Linked DNA regions of Homo sapiens: region 2 is linked to region 1. Evidence: fine-mapped expression QTL. Tissue or cell type: whole blood. Region 1 holds a variant in brackets; the other region holds the start of a gene. All regions are shown on one strand. Distances are between the middles of the regions.

Region 1 (8,103 bases):
CCCCACTTGATTGATGGGGAAACTATGACTCAGTGGGGAATGTTTGCCCAGGGCAACAGGGCTGTGGGAAGACCTCATGTCCCAGGATGTCCTGCTGCCCCGCAGGGATGTGAGCCCTAATAGCATCTTTTAGGATTACAGGACAAATAATTTTCCCTATACAAATTAAAATTTCTTAAATATTTGGGCCTCAATTTCCTCCTCTCTTACCAAAAAAGTGGAGTTGAGGCCGGGTGCGGTGGCTCACACCTGTAATCCCAGAACTTTGGGAGGCCCAGGCAGGCAGATCACTTGAGGTCAGGAGTTCGAGACCAGCCTGGCCAACATGGTGAAACCCCATCTCTACTAAAAATACAAAAATTAGCCAGGCATGGTGGCTGGCGCCTGTAATCCCAGCTACTCAGGAGGCTGAGGCAGGAAGGCTGAGGCAGGAGAATCGCTTGAACCTGGGAGATGGAGGTTGTACTGAGCTGAGACCACGCCATTGCCCTCCAGTCTGGGTGACAGAGTGAGAGTCCATCTCAAAAAAAAAAAAAAAAAAGAGGAGTTGAACTAAATGACCTCTTAAGTCATCTTCAGGTTGGGCACGGTGGCTTGCGCCTGTAATCCCAACACTTTCGGAGGCCGAGATGGGAGGGTCTCTTGAGCCCAGGAATTTAAGACCAGCCCTGGCAACATAGCCAGACCCCATCTCTACAAAAAATAAAAAACAAAAAAATCAGCTGGGCGTGGTGGTATGTGCCTGTAGTCCTAGCTACTCCAGACGCTGAGGTGAGAGGATTGCTTGAGCCTGGGAATTTGAGGCTGCAGTGAGCCACGACTGCACCACTGCACTCCAGCCTGGGTGACAGACTGAGACCCTGTCTCAAAAGGAATAAAGAAAATAAAATAAAAAATCATCTTCAGCTCTGCTATCTTCTGATTCTGTGATTTAAGGCACAAGAGAGATTTACTTGGACCAAAGCACTGGCTTTATCTCAAAGCGTGTATGTATGTTGAAGGTGGGGAGGCAGAGGCAGCTGGGTTATCAGTCCCACGTGTGACATTCTCCAGGGGGAATGTCCATGACAGTACATTACCAACAACATTTCCTTCATAGGCTTGAGTTCCGAAATGCCTCTCTCCAACCAAAAGCAATCAAGCACACACTGCAACAATAAACTCCAGCATTTCTGTTCCATGGCCAAAGAGTAGTAGGTCAAGGGAGATACTACTTTTACCCACAACCCCTGCAGGCATCATCAGTGGATCACAGCACCCAACATTTGAGCCTGGCCACGGCTTCATAATCATACTTAGTGCTGTATTGTAGGAAGCAAATGACTTGACTGAAATTGACCCAGAGATAAACTATCTTACTGACACTAGACTATTTTTCCTAATGATCTTTTTTTTCACTGTCAGTTTCTCCAAGTGAAATTTACAGTGTTTTGTTTGTTTGCTTGTTTGAGATGGGGGTCTCACTGTGTTGCCCAGGCTTGTTTTGAACTCTGGGGCTCAAGCAGTCCTCCTAGTTCAGCCTCCCTAGTAGCTGGGATTGCAAGCACATGCCACAGTGCCCAATTAATAATGACTCTTTCTTACTGCAAAGTTAATATATGTTCATTTAGGAAGATGTGGAAAATAAAAAGCCATCCACAAACACACCACTATTATTAATGCCTGTTAAGGTTTGGGTATTTTTTGTGCTTATGCAAACAATGGGATCAAACTTCTACGGCTTACTTGCTCAAAGTACATATTGGATATCTTTTCAGATCATTAAATATTAATCAATAGCTCTATTTTAATGGTTCTACGGTACCCCACTTATGAATGTACCACTGTTTTATCTGCTGTAATTGTTTTTGTCTGCTTGTTTTTTGAGATGGAGTCTTCCTCTGTCACCCAGGCTGGAGTGCAGTGGCGCGATCTTGGCTCACTGCAACCTCCAGCCCCTGGATTCAAGTGATTCTCCTGCCTCAGCCTCCCTGAGTAGCTGGGACTACAGGCACGCACCACCACGCCCAGCTAATTTTTTTTGTACTTTTAGTAGAGACGGAGTTTCACCATGTTGGCCAAACTGGTCTCGAACTCCTGACCTCAGGTGATCCGCCCGCCTTGGCTCCTAAAGTGCTGGGATTACAGGCGTGAGCCACCATGCCCGGCCTCTGCTGTATCTTATGGATGCCCTAGAGTTGGGCATCTAGGTTGTTTTCCATTATTTACTATTTCCATGATTATTACAAAAATACTGCAGTGAACAAATTCTTGTGCATATCTATGATTCTGTTAATAAATGCATAAAGATGGAATAGCTGGCTTGCTGTATATCAACAAATTGCTACCCAGAAAGACTGCCACACTTCACATTCCATCGCTTTCCATGTGAGAGTCCATTTTACCCCCATCCTCAATGGGTAACATCATTCTTTTAGTGTTTTGTCAAACTGAGACAAAAATTCCACTGTTTGAATTAAATTATTAACTATTTGTATTCCTCTTTTCTGAAGCTGTTTGTGTCCTTTGCCCTGCTTTTTCTCAGGGTCATTTTTTTTTTTTTTTTTTTTTTTTGAGACAGAGTCTAGCTCTTGTCGCCCAGGCTGGAGTGCAGTGGTGTGATCTCGGCTCACTGCAAGCTCCGCCTCCCGGGTTCATGCCATTCTCCTGCCTCAGCCTCCTGAGTAGCTGGGACTATAGGCACCGGCCACCACGCCCGGCTAATTTTTTGTATTTTTAGTAGAGACAGGGTTTCACTGTGTTAGCCAGGATGGTCTCGATCTCCTGACCTTGTGATCCGCCCGCCTCAGCCTCCCAATGTGCTGGGATTACAGGCGTGAGCACCTGTAATCCCAGGGTGGGAACACCCGCGCCCAGCCAGGGTGTTCATCTTTTATTTCCTTATGAATTTGTAAACACTGCTTATATATCGGTGATAGTAACTCTTTGTTATATATTTTTGATCAAGCCTAGTAATGGTTTACTTTATGCTTTCTGCCTTTGCTGTCATGCTTACAAAAACCATCCCTACTATTTTAGTCTGACTTTGGTGGTTACAAAAACAGGCTCATTCTGAACCTCCAGAGAAAGAAAGGGAGGAGGCAGTGGGTATTGTAAAACTCATGTTCATTTTAAAGGAGGACACAGACTAAGAACCTAACTTGTTTCATTTCATTAATCACTGTTCCAATATTTTTAATAATCTTGATCATCATACTATCTTTGTTACATAGTAACGTTTTACATAATATGGATCTATTCCATACTTTTATTTCCAACTGGATCTTTCTGTTAAATGCTACATAAGTACTACACTTTAAAAAAAGTATTATGGCTCAGCAATATAGATTACTATTGATAAGGCAGGTCTTTCCTCCTTGGTCTTATTTTTCACATTTATTTTTCCAAATCTCAGAATCTTTCTGTTGAGCTACAAAAAAAAAAGACACTGTAATTTTTAAGTAAGGTTTATTGAGGTATGTATATTACAATTCACCCTTTTAAAGTGCGCAGTTCAGTGAGTTTTCACAGATGTATGCAGTTGTGCAGCGACCACTACCAAGACACAGATCATTTTTACCACTTCCCCAAATCCCCTCCTGCCCCTGGCAATCATTTGCCACTGCAATATTATTAGGCCTGTGTTGAAGACTTAAGTCAGGAGAAAACTGACATATTTACATTGAGTCTTCTCACCAAGGAACAAACTATTTTCTTAATTAATAGCTCATCATTTTTTCCAAAATTTTATAATTTTCTTCCCCTGGATCTGAGTCATTATTACATTGATTCTATTTATTATAGATTCTGTGTGGTTATTGTGAATTTAGTAATTTTTAAATACAGTAGGCATTGATTTTTGCATATTTACAACTGGATGCTGAGTAGATACATAAAACACTCAAAAGAGAGTTGAAGTTTAGGTGCACTAGTTGGCACTTTGGGGCCTCATGTCTAAAAGCTGCCCTAATTTTT[CTTTT/C]TTTTCTTTTTTTTTTTTTTTGAGATGGAGTCTTGCCCTGTTGCCAGGCTGGAGTGCAGTGGCATGACCTCAGCTCAGTGCAATCTCTGCCTCCCGGGTTCAAGCGATTCTCCTGCCTCAGCCTCCTGAGTAGCTGGGACTACAGGCGCCCGCCACCACGTCTAGCTGATTTTTGTAATTTTAGTAGAGATGGGGTTTCACCATGTTGGCCAGGATGATCTCGATCTCTTGATCTCGTGATCTGCCTTTTCTTTATCTTGTCTGGTTATGTGCATCCCAGAGGCACTCTCCAGGGCCTACTTTTTATATCCCTCGTACTCAGCTTAACATAGGTATTCCGCAATGTTGACGTCGTCAATCAATCAGTGAATGACTGTCTTGTGCTGTGATCCCGCACGTTCCCGACAGGGCTTTCTGAATGTACGGGGCTGAGGCTGGTACAGGGAAAAGTGAGCCATACAAAGGCCTGCCCTGCTTCGGGCACTGAACGCTTGCCTGTCTCCGTTAGGAATGGAATGTAATCCTTGCAGGGCTCTCTGCCCCACTTTCTTCTGTAACTAAGACGGCCTTAGCAGAGCCTGGGCTGACAGGGAAGCAGGCAGTTAGTCTCTCAGTCTATTGCATCAGTGGTTCTCAGCAGCCTACTGCACTAGGGCCAACAGAGATCAAATGATCCTCAATCAGGTTTCAATTGAGTATTTGAGAATGCCTACATGGAAAGACTGCACTGAGCCCCGATAAGGCCCCACAGGGTAACCAAGCAGCATCTCTCCCTGCTTTTTGATCATATTATAACAACTCGATGGAGAAACGCTTGGTATACTGTGCTGAATAGAAGTTCTGACAGGGAGTGACAGTCGTCTTTGACAAAAATTTCAAAAGTGGGGCAATTAAATAATTATCAGAAAATGGAATTTGTTTATTTGAGAGACTCTTCAAATTGTGTTTCATGGGAGCGAAATTAAATAAAGAGCTTCCTGGAGGGGGAAAGATTACTTAATTCATTATTCTTTCTTGACTTTTTCCCCTTCCCTATTGGGTAAAAATTAATAGACTCTGTGGTATTGGGGGTTGAGGAGAATCCATGTGCCTAAGACTGAGGTGGGGATCTTGTTAAAATACAGACTGTGGGCCAGGCGTGGTGGCTCACATCTGTAATCCCCAGTACTTTGGGAGGCCAAGGCGGGTGGATCACCTGAGGTCAGGAGTTCAAGACCAGCCTGGCCAACATGGCGAGATCCTGTTTCTACTAAAAATACAAAAATTACCATGCACGCCACCGGGCATGGTGGCGGGCGCCTGTAATCCCAGCTACTTGGGAGGCTGAGGCAGCAGAATCACTTGAACCAGGGAGGTGGAGGTTGCAGTGAGCCAAGATCGCACCACTGCTCTCCAGCCTAGGCAACAAGAGCGAAACTCCATCTCAAAACAAACAAACAAACAAACAAAAAAACAGACTGTGATTGAGGAGAGCTGGAGTGGAGCCTGAGAAGCTGCATTTCTGCTAAGTACCCCAGTGGTGTGACACTGCCGGACCACAGACTACACTGAGTAGCAAGGCTGTAGAGGGAGTCTGAGTATTAGCTTTGCTACAAACTTGTAGATAATTCACCACTTGGGCCCTTCTTCCTCTATACAGTGAGGACATACCAGATGGTGTGTGACACGTCTGACATTGTGATGGCGAAACCACCTCAAGGTCCTCACGAAACCTTGGTGGCCAAGGCCCTTGGTATGACCTCTTGAGACCAGGAGGCTCTCACAGGCATCTACAGAGCTCAGCCTTGGCCCCTTACCTTTGCATCATCCTTGAATGGAAAAAGGATCACGGGCTGCCAACTGCAGACCCACCCAGGAATACTTCAGATGGCTCAAACACAGTGGTAATGTCCCTGGCTTACTCCATCAAAATGCAGTGAGCATCATCAGAGTGGTCCGGAGCTTGACTGACAACGACCAGCTGCTGCTCACCACAGCAGCCAACAAGGAATGTGCCCACTCTCCCCTTCAGTTTGCTCCTCCTCAGTGTCAGGGTCCCAGGGCCCTAGAAGTCTCTAAAAGCCACTGAGCAAACTTCTTTGCCTCTCAAAGCTGTGGCAACTTTAGGTCCGTCCTCCAGCTTAGGGGTGACTAGAGCGATTGATTTCCTGCCCCTTCAACTGAGGGTGAGAAGACACTGTCTCTGGGGCCTAAGTGTGGCTACTCTGCTCTGCCACACCACACCTGAGGCCCACTCTCCTACCATCTGCCTCCTGCTGTTGCTGAAGCTTGCTGACACTTTCTCCACGCTGTCTTCTTTCAGGCCTTCTCTCGCCTGGGCAACCTGATGCTGGCATTAGCTTTTATCTCTCTGCCCAAGCTACAGCAAATTGCTGAGAGCTGTCCAATGCATTCTCCACATCACAGACTTGCTTTCTTTCAAGACTGCCTTTTGCAGGGACTCTTTTTCCCCTCTACTTTTCTTTTGGAGTTATAGGGTGCAAACAGTAAAAGGCATAAATCTTAAGTTCAAAGTTTAATATGTTTTTATGTATGTAAATCATCACCCAGATCAAGCTACTGAACATTTCAATGGCTCTGGAAGCTCTCCTGGCACCCCCTTCTGAATTACTAACCATCTCACCTCCTGCCAGAGTTAAGCACTATTCTGACTTTTAACACGATGGGTTAGTTTTCCCTGTTCTCCTAGTATCATACTTCATCCTAACACAATTATTCCTGTTTTACAAATTTAAAGAAAAAAAACACCCAACAACGAGGACAAATGCGTTAGTCTTTTTAAACTGGTCCAACCTGAATAACGCCACCCTATGTTTAAGAATGGGAAGAGAGGCTTGGCGGGGAGGGTTGTCTTTCCCTAGGGTTGTGTCTTCCTTGAACTGGGTGCAAACATGGACAAAGTCACATGTATGACATGGAGACAACACATCCCCACAACGAACTGCATCATAGCTCCTTGAAATCAAAGGACCAAATTATAAACGAGTTTACACTGACTGGATATTTGATATTAAGCAAAAACCAAACGACAAAATCCAAGAGCAAAAACAAAAACCTTTTTGCTGTGCTGATGAAACTGTGGTTGTTTTTTTCTTTCTTTCTTTTTTGTTTTTTGAGACAACTCTTGTTGCCCAGGCTGGAGTGCAGTGGCGTGATCTCGGCTCACTGCAACCTCCGCCTCCCAGATTCACACGATTCTCCTACCTCAGCCTCCCGAGTAGCTGGGATTACAGGCACCCGCCACCACGCCCGGCTAACTTTGGTATTTTTAGTAGAGACGGGTTTCTCCATGTTGGTCAGGCCAGTCTCGAACTCTCAACCTCAGGTGATCCACCCGCCTTTGCTTCCCAAAGTACTGGGATTACAGGCATGAGCCACCGTGCCCAGCCAACTGTGGTTGTTTTTAAAGGACAAAGTTGGTCTCTTTCAGAGGCACATGCTGGGAATGGGCTGGGGTGGCAGTGGGTGGGGGGGTGCAGACAAAATTAAATGGTGGTAATCACTGAAGCTTGCTGATGGGTACATCAATTAGTTAACTATTCTACTTTTTGAATAAGTTTCCAAATTTTCACAATAAAAAGGAAAAAAAGAAAACTCAAGTTTTCTTTCGGTTAAATACCCACATCAATGTTCTCATGAAATAGTGCACAGAGTCAGTGACTTTAAGGCCCCTTATGAGGGGGACATTAGCATCCTCATGTTGAAGATTGAAAGGAAATACCTCCAAGTATTATTTCTTGGTAGTGGAACAACAGTGATTGAAAATTTTCTTCCTTCAACTTTTCTGTATGCCAAACTTTCTTTACTGAGGATATAGTATAATTACGGAAGAAGAGCCAACAAACTTTCAAATACATTGGAAAAGTATATAGAAAATAATTACCCCTATAAGGTCTAAAGGTGTTATTAAGGAATATGTGGCTAAAGAGGCTATTACTTGAATCTTGTTAATGAATAGAAATAACCGTCCATTTTGTTACACAGTAATATAACCCCTAACTGGTAAGTAAAAAGCACAAACTAGGCCGGGCGCAGTGGCTCACGCGTGTAATCCCAGCACTTTGGGAGGCCAAGGCGGGCGGATCACCTGAGGTTGAGAGTTCGAGACCAGCCTGACCAACATGGAGAAACCCGTCTCTACTAAA
Region 2 (8,103 bases), 56 kb after region 1:
GTAGAGTGAAGAAACACAGTCCATATTCCACTGGACGTGGCATCGTGAAGATGTGAATGGGGGGCTGCAGGGCCACTGTGTGGAGCCCAAGAGTGAAGTTAGCATGACAGATGGTGGAACTGAGAGGTGGAGAGAAGGTAAAGTTCCGAGTCCACCAGTCTGAAGCCAGCACCACCCTTCACCTTTTCAGTAAACTGTACCAATACCTTTTCTTCTCAGCTCATAGCACATTTGAGTTATTTTCTAGCTTGTATCTAAAGGAGCCCTAACTGATCTACCTTAAAGATGCAGACGGAGTTCTAGCTGCCTATACAAGGAGCCCAGGCATCTAGGGAACTAGAATTTTCCCCACTAAGGTGGGACTCATTAGTCTTTATTCTAAGGCCCCTGAGAACATTCGAGCCCCACTAGGAGAAACTGTTTTAAAGAAAGTGAAGAAGAATCTGTCCTCTCACTTCTATAAAACAGAAGACGCTGTTTTATAGCAGATCCTTCTGACGTTTTCCTGAAGATGGGTAAGGATGATTAGAATTAGCCCCTTTTATTATCAGAAATGAGAAGAAAGGCCTAGAGAGCCCCGTTTTACTCCTGGGAGTTGGGCAGATAGACCCTCATTATTATGAGGAAATCTGATTTGCTGTCTCTCCATTTAGAATGCAAGGCTTATACCTGTGACTTCAGGGTTAAGTCCAACAAGCAGGGTCAGTACTGCAGGGATTGTGTACACCACCTGTTAGCAAAAAGGGAGGAAATTACATGAGTTAAGATGTATGCCCAATATATGAGATGTTCAGAGATACAGGAAGTAAAGAAAGATGAGATCAGTGGCTGCTGTGCCCCATGATTTGCCTCTAAGTTTCAATGGTGATTGAGAAAGTGGTAGATTCTCCTTTTGTGGCACTTAGCACGTCTGCCTGCAATTTTATCTACCTTCCTCCTAGACTATAGGCTATTCCAGAAGCTCATTTATCTTTGAGCTCTAACACTGAGCACAGGGTTTTGGTCTTAAGACACACTAACTTTCCAGTCGCTCCCAAGCAACTTTCATGCCCAAATGGCCTTTCCCCACTTGCATAAAAGAAAATGTTCTTTGAAAAGTAGGGCAGGAGCAGCCACGATGCTAGATGGCCCTGCTGGCTTTGGACCCAATGGACCATCCAGGCCAGTACTGCATCTCTGTGAGACCACAGAAAGTTTTCTAATAATGCATACACAATCAGCTGTGCCCAGTAATAAGGTCAGGCTCTTCATTTTGGAACTGCTGATAAGTGTTTGGAAATGAGAAGACTAGCCCTAAAGAGGCCCTATTCCTAAGCCTTGTTCATAACAAGCAGGCTCTAGCCAAACTTACTATTGTGTGTGTTGTTGGCAGGGAATAAGTAGGGAGGGTGGGTTTATAAGAAGGATGGGGACTTTCCAAACAATGTAGCTGTCTAATCACATCAATTTCTGTGCTTATATCAGAAGATGTTAAGGCAGGTGCCAGGGGTCCATGTGGGAGGTAGTGGAGGGCTGAACTGTGAATGAGGGAGGATGTCTATGGGGACATGGGGTCTATTCCTCCTATTATATCGTCTGAGCATGAATGAAAGGTAAAATGTGCAGGTACTATAGAGATAAGCAATTAGACCTCGATTGTTTAATTAATTTTTTGGAGATGGGGGGGGTCTCGCTATGTTGCACAGGCTGGCCTCGAACTCCTGGGCTCAAGTGAGCCTCCTGCCTCAGCCTCTTGAGTAACTGGGACTACGGATGCCTGCCACCATGCCCGACTCAAATTTATTTTGTGTTTTGAGGGGCTCTCCAAGGCAGTGGTAAGGAACAGAGAGATGATAAAGATGACTGAGATTCTGAACAAGAATGACTCAGAGAATGATTCTGCTGATAACAGAAATGGGTGAGTCAGGATAAGTAGATTTTGGAGGGAAAGATGCTAGGTAGGTCCTTGGGCATATCTGAGGAGCAGTGTGACATGCAGGTGAATATACGCAGCAGTCTTTTGGAAATTCACCATTAAGCTGGATGTCTGAGACTTGTCTGCAGGGAAATAATATTTGGAATTCAAGATACGGACCAGGGTGCCAAGGCAAAGGCAGTTTGATTTGATTCAGAGGCATACTGATCTGGATAGTAAATATCAGAATGTGGTTTTACTGCACTAAAAAAACAAAACCTGGATAGAATTTCATGTTATAATTCCAGATACCATCATCCTTGTTGCTCCTCTGTCAATATTATTCTAAAGCTTAAGAGTCATCTCCTTGGTGTACTGTACAGTCTTGTGTATCTATATTGAGAGAAACTGGGCAAAATTCAGATATTTTGGAAGATAAAAGATATTTAGAGCCGGGCGCGGTGACTCATGTCTGTAATCCCAGCACTTTGGGAGGCTGAGGCAGGTGGATCACCTGAGGTCGAGAGTTCAAGACCAGCTTGACCAACATGGAGAAACCCTGTCTCTACTAAAAATACAAAATTAGCTGGGTGTGGTGGCGCATGCCTGTAATCCCAGTTACTTGGGACACTGAGGCAGAAGAATCACTCAAACCTGGGAGGTAGAGGTTGCGGTGAGCCTAGATTGCGCCATTGCACTCCAGCCTGGGCAACAAGAGCAAAACTCCGTCTCAAAAAGAAAAAAAAAAAAAGATATTTAGAAGATGTATGGAACAATGGCCCCCTCCTCCAAATGGTTCAAATCAGAGCCTTGCTTATATGAAGACTGTAGGTTTTACAGGATTTAATACTTTTCTTTGCTTTTTTTTTTTCTTTTTTTTCTTTGCTTTTTTTTTTTTGAGATGGAGTCTCACTCTGTCGCCCAGACTGGAGTGCAGTGGCACGATCTCAGCACACTGCAACTTCTGCCTCCTGGGTTCCAGCGAGTCTCCTGCTTCAGCTTCCCTAGTAGCTGGGGACTACAGGCGCATGCCACCACGCCTGGCTAATTTTTGTATTTTTTGGTGGAGACGGGGTTTCACCATGTTGCTCAGGCTGATCTAGAACTCCTGACCTCAAGTGATCCACCCGCCTTGGCCTCCCAGAGTGCTGAGATTGCAGGCGTGAGCCACCTTGCCCAGCCAGGAGTTAATACTTTCTAGAAATATAAGTCACTGAATTAGCAGAACCTCAGAACTTAAGCCTGTTATTTTCCGGTCAAAGGTTTGCATTGAGTGTCTGGCTAGAAACTCATAAGGAATTGTTCAACTGATCTTGAGAGGCCTACTCTAGGTCCTCAAGAAAGTCCTCAGTTGGGCCATCTAACCAAAGGGAATACTGCAGAAAGACCTGTTTCCAGAAAGTTCGAAATTCACACACACATTACATTAGAACTCTGATCCTGCCTATTAATATTTTAGGAAAAAGCGCTTCCCAAGGGTTTGATTTTTAAGTTTCTCAGAAAATTAAGCAGGGAGGAGGGGTAAAGACATAAAACCGTGTGTTTTGTGCCGTTCCCCAATTCTTCCAAACGGAGGAAAGCCTGGAAGCGGCTCATACTCACCACCCACACCTCTGCATCTGGGTCATTTACCTGGAACGCCAGAATACCAAGGTGTTAGCAGACATCCTGTGCTGTTCCATTCCTTTTAAATTCATTTAAGCACATTTTTTATTAATTTGTTAAGTGCCAGACACTGCAATAGGCATCGAGGGTACAAAATCTGAACAGGATATAGTCCAGATGAGGACGGGTGAAGGGGTTTCTGGCTGACACAACAGATGTTTTTAACAGGCAGCCACACATTTTTGAAAAGCCTTCACGGGAGCTCTGGAGAGGACTCGCCAACCCAGAACGGGTATTTTAAGGGCCCTCCACCCCCACCAGTCTCAAGAAATGAGGGAAATGATTATGAAGGGGGTCCCCAAGCCGACTAAAAAGTTTAATGATGCTATAAAGGGTTTTGGTCGGCTTCGTCTCCTAGGCCCTGAGATATGTTCAGTGTCGTCCGCGGGCCGGACGTTAACGCAGGAGCCAGGGCCGCTTCTTCTGAGGTCCCCTGGGAAGTTCCACGCGCGGAACCAGCCCCTTCCAGGGTGTGAGCCCTGGTATGGGACTCGCTTCCATGAACACATCCGCGTCTCTTAGACGGGGGAGAAAGTGGGGGCTCCCCAAGCAGAAAGCCCAAGTCCCGTCCTCCCCACTAACTGTGCGCCCCTGCGACTCTGCCCGCTAGTCAGTTACACGGCCCGCTAGGCCAGGGGGCGGAGCTGGGAGCCGGGCGGGTCCCCCTCCCACCGCGGCCGCCTGACCTGCACCAAGGCCGCCAGCGCGAAGAAGGCGGCCATGAGTCCGTTGCAGGCCCGCCACAGCGCTGGCGCCATGGCTCGGAGAACACGGCGCGGGGCGGTGAGTCCTGCCACGTGCGGGGCGGTGAGTCCTGCCACGTACGGTCCGCCTTCCTCCTTGCGCGGAGGGACCGAGACCCCCGCCTCGGTTTCGGTGCCTTGGGGACACTGCCGTGGCCGTCGCTCCGCCCGGGGGCGGGGAGCGAAGGGCGTGGGTGTAGCCCCCACTCAGCGACCCATTCAGCCCGCCCCGAACGCCGCGGGGTGTAGGCGGCGCCGTCCTGGTTTCGCGGATGGGAAAGCGAGTCCCTCAGGGAGCGCAGGTCTCGGTGGTGGACGGAAGTCGAATTTGAACCCGTATAGGTTCAACTCCAAACCCTGTTTTCACTAAAGCTACCTTCCTCACAAAAAAAAAAAAAAAGAAGAAAGAAAAAAAAGAAGGAAAAAAGGAAGGAAGGCAGGCGGGAGGGGAGAGAGGAAGAAAGAGAAAGAAAGAAAAAGAAAGAAGGAAAGAAAGGGCTGGGCGCAGTGGCTCACGCCTGTAATCCCAGCACTGTGGGAGGCCGAGGTGGGCGGATCACCTGAGGTCAGGAGTTCGAAAGCAGCCTGGCCAACATGGTGAAACCCCGTATCTCTACTAAAAATACGAAAAAATTAGTCGGGCGTGGTGGCGGGAGCCTGTAATCCCAGCTACTCAGGAGGCTGAGGCAGGAGAATTGCTTGAACCCGGGCGGCGGAGGTTGCAGTGAGCCCAGATTGTGCCACTGCACTCCAGCCTGGGCAACAAAGCGAGACTCCTCAAAAAAAAAAGGATAAAAATTGTTTTTACAAAAATAAGAAAGAGAAAGAAAAAGAGATGTGTGTGTGTGTGTGTGTGTGTGTGTGTGTGTGTGTGTGTGTGTTCTGTTTAGTATTTATGCATTTCCTTCCAAAGCTCAGGAACTTTCAAATCCCTGTAAGCATTATGGTAATTTCTAGAGTGACGACAGTTATATTAACATCTTATACGGCTCACAGCTTTTCGGCAGACAGGCTCATTTATCTTCATGGGCTTTTATTATAAAAGATATTTACATATTATACATATTTACAATTCTCTCCCACCACCAAAACCAACAAAATTTCCAAAATTGCTCATGAATTTCTTATGAACCGAAGACACTGAAATATTCACTGTTCTCCCCTAGTCTGTCTGGTCTTTTTCTGTTTTGTAATTCGCCCTTCTGCTTAGTTCCTCCCCGGGCTCATTTACACATCCATAGGCCTCATTTCTGCTGTTCTAAAGAGTCTTTATCGCTTCAAATCAGGAGCTTCTGTGCCTGTCCTCTTTTCCTTTGAGCTAAATCTCCTAAAACTGTCTAGTTTTTTTTTTCTTTCCCTCTCAGTTTCATTCTTTTCACGAAACACTTATTTCAAGAACGTTGTCTGCTCTGTGCCTGGTGCTGGGACCGTGAAGGTCCCGTGCCGGGACTAGGCAGGGAGCCTGGCGGCTGGCGGGGGTGGGCACCCGTGTTTGCAGAGGTGGGGTGGGGACAGCGGGGACCAGCACTGGGTGGAGTTCCACAGCTAAATCAGCCCTGGGATTGGAAACAAGCGAAGACTATTCTCACTGTGCTTTTCCTTACATAAAAGAAAAAAATGAGAGCGAGAGTGCTAGGGGCTGACTTGCATTCCCCCTGCACCCCCAATTCATATGCTGAAGCCCTAACCCCCAGTGCCTCAAAATGGGACTGCATTTGCAGACAGGGACTTGACAGAGATGATTAAGTTAAAATGAGGTTATAGGGTGGACCCTAATCCAATATGACTAGTGTCCTGATACGAAGAGGGGACAGTTACAGAGGGAAGACCACATGGGCACACAGGGAGAAGACGGCCGTCTGCAAGCCAAGGGGAGAGGCCTCATGAGAAACCAACCCTACCAACATCCTGAATTTGGACTTCCAGCCTCCAGAACTGTGAGAAAATAAATTTCCGTTGTTTAAGCCACCTAGACTGTGGTACTTTGTTGGGACAGTCCTAGCAAATTAATACAGGGAATGATTATAATACCCACAAGGAAACAATGGCATGGAAGTGCTTTTAAGCTCTTGAATGCCATACAACCACCATGAAGTTTTATAGTTTTCACTGTTGTCTGGGACTTTCTTTTTTTATTTCTATTTTTTTGAGACAAAGTCTTGCTCTGTTGCCCAGGCTGGAGTGCAGTGGCACGATCTCAGCTCACTGCAACCTCTGCCTCCTGGGTTCAAGTGATTCTCCTGCCTCAGCCTCCAGAGTAGCTGGGACTACAGGCGCCCACCACCATGCTGGGCTAATTTTTGTATTTTTTTTAGTAGAGATGGAGTTTCACCATATTGGCCAGGCTGGTCTCGAATTCCTGACCTCATGATCTGCCTGCCTCGGCCTCCCACAGTGCTGGGATTACAGGCATGAGCCACTGCACCCGGCTGGGACTTTCAAAGTCACCTTAGTGAGCGTCTGTTGGTTTTGCCTTTGCAGGGTTCAGTCCCCTTTCTTCGAGGATCAGTGTCTTTAGTACTGTGGATTACCACATGCACTATGGGTGGATGTGGACTACAGGGTTGACCGTGCTCCCCTCCTTTTGGGGATAGGCAGGTGACTTTGGCCTGCCAGCTGACATATCCCATTCTGTTGACCACTGTGATTGGGTCTAGGATGGGTATAGGATCCAAATTGCCCAGATTCAATCCTAGGACCTATATGGGACTTAGGTTGTCAGTAAAGGACAACCTCAGTTGAACTGAATTTTGGATCATCAATGATGTGTTCCAAATATTTGCTAAATCTGGCAATCCTACTCACACTATTAAAGAGAAGCTTTCTTTGTGATGAATGTGTAGAGCTGGTAGAATGTGAGCCTGGAGCTGTCAGGAGAAAGCCTCACAGGGAGAAAGGCTTTCTGCAGGTGAAGTTTAAAAGCCTGGATCCAGCCATGCCTGAAAATGGAAGAATCTCACAACCAACAGAGTCTCTTCTTTACATAAGCCCGTGTGAATTGGGTTTTTGTAATTTGCAACAAAGAATGATGACTTGTAAAGTCATGATTCAATAGTTAAGGCAATGTGTGAAATCCTTGCAAACCTCCTGCTATAGGTTTGTCCAGGCTTTGCAGAGACACGGAAGAGAAGGCTTAGTCTGAAAAGTAATGAAAAATACGTTTAAATGAATCCAATATCTCAGACAGCTCTGCTTGAAGAGTAATTTCATTTCCCTTTTTAGCAAAAGGCTATGATACAATACTGCAGAGAAGATGAGGTTTTAAAGGCAGTAGGGTCTTGTCAAAGCTGGCTTCCCTCTGCAGAAAGGGCAGCACAAAGGACCCTTCATCCTGCTGGACACTCCCTGGCTGCCCAGTCAGTGACAGCATCATAAAAGCAATTGAGCCACAGGAGTGAGGTGAGCTGGACTCACTTCCCCGCTGGAATCCGAGAATGGCTGGACATCTGCCCTCTGAGAACTTGGAAATAGAGGTGCTTGCTTATTCCCTGAGAGTAGGGTTGTTAATCCAATGCTAAGAGTTGGAGCAGAGACAGGAAGCTCATATAAAGACACAAATGGCCTCCCAGGGTCACAGGATTGAGAGAGAGAAAATGAATGCATGAAAGTACGTAAAAGAAGAATGTCAGCAAAGGAGGATTGATGGGCTTGGAGGCTTCAAGTTAGGTCATCTGAAAGGCAAGCGTAGACCAAGTCCATCCTCACACAGACTGGAGAGAGTGCTTTGCTCCACCAGATGTGGACACTCACATTTCTTGGTCGGGCCAACCTCTTTGGGGCTTATGTGGGTTGAAAATTTCA

Evidence for each region. PIP is the estimated chance that this variant, and not a neighbour inherited with it, causes the effect.
Region 2: it holds the start of TMEM220, and the variant in region 1 is fine-mapped to the expression of TMEM220 in whole blood (INTERVAL, PIP above 0.99).

Annotation. Positions count from the first base shown.
Region 1 is chr17:10,669,044-10,677,146 of GRCh38, forward strand. It overlaps SCO1 (synthesis of cytochrome C oxidase 1), which reads right to left. Exons shown (of 6, transcript NM_004589.4): 6 at 3,431-8,103. It also overlaps a transcript of MYH3 not described here. Among named protein-coding and RNA genes, the nearest start is that of MYH3, 16 kb to the left of the region's middle. The variant CTTTT/C (reference allele first, on the strand shown) is at 3,955.
Region 2 is chr17:10,725,535-10,733,637 of GRCh38, forward strand. TMEM220 (transmembrane protein 220) reads right to left here and starts at 4,489. Exons shown (of 6, transcript NM_001004313.3): 1 at 4,246-4,489; 2 at 3,497-3,526; 3 at 670-730. The coding sequence starts at 4,317. TMEM220-AS1 (TMEM220 antisense RNA 1) reads left to right here and starts at 4,243. Exons shown (of 4, transcript NR_073458.1): 1 at 4,243-4,366. RefSeq lists enhancers at 3,941-4,527, 4,528-5,114 and silencers at 4,128-4,297, 4,308-4,547.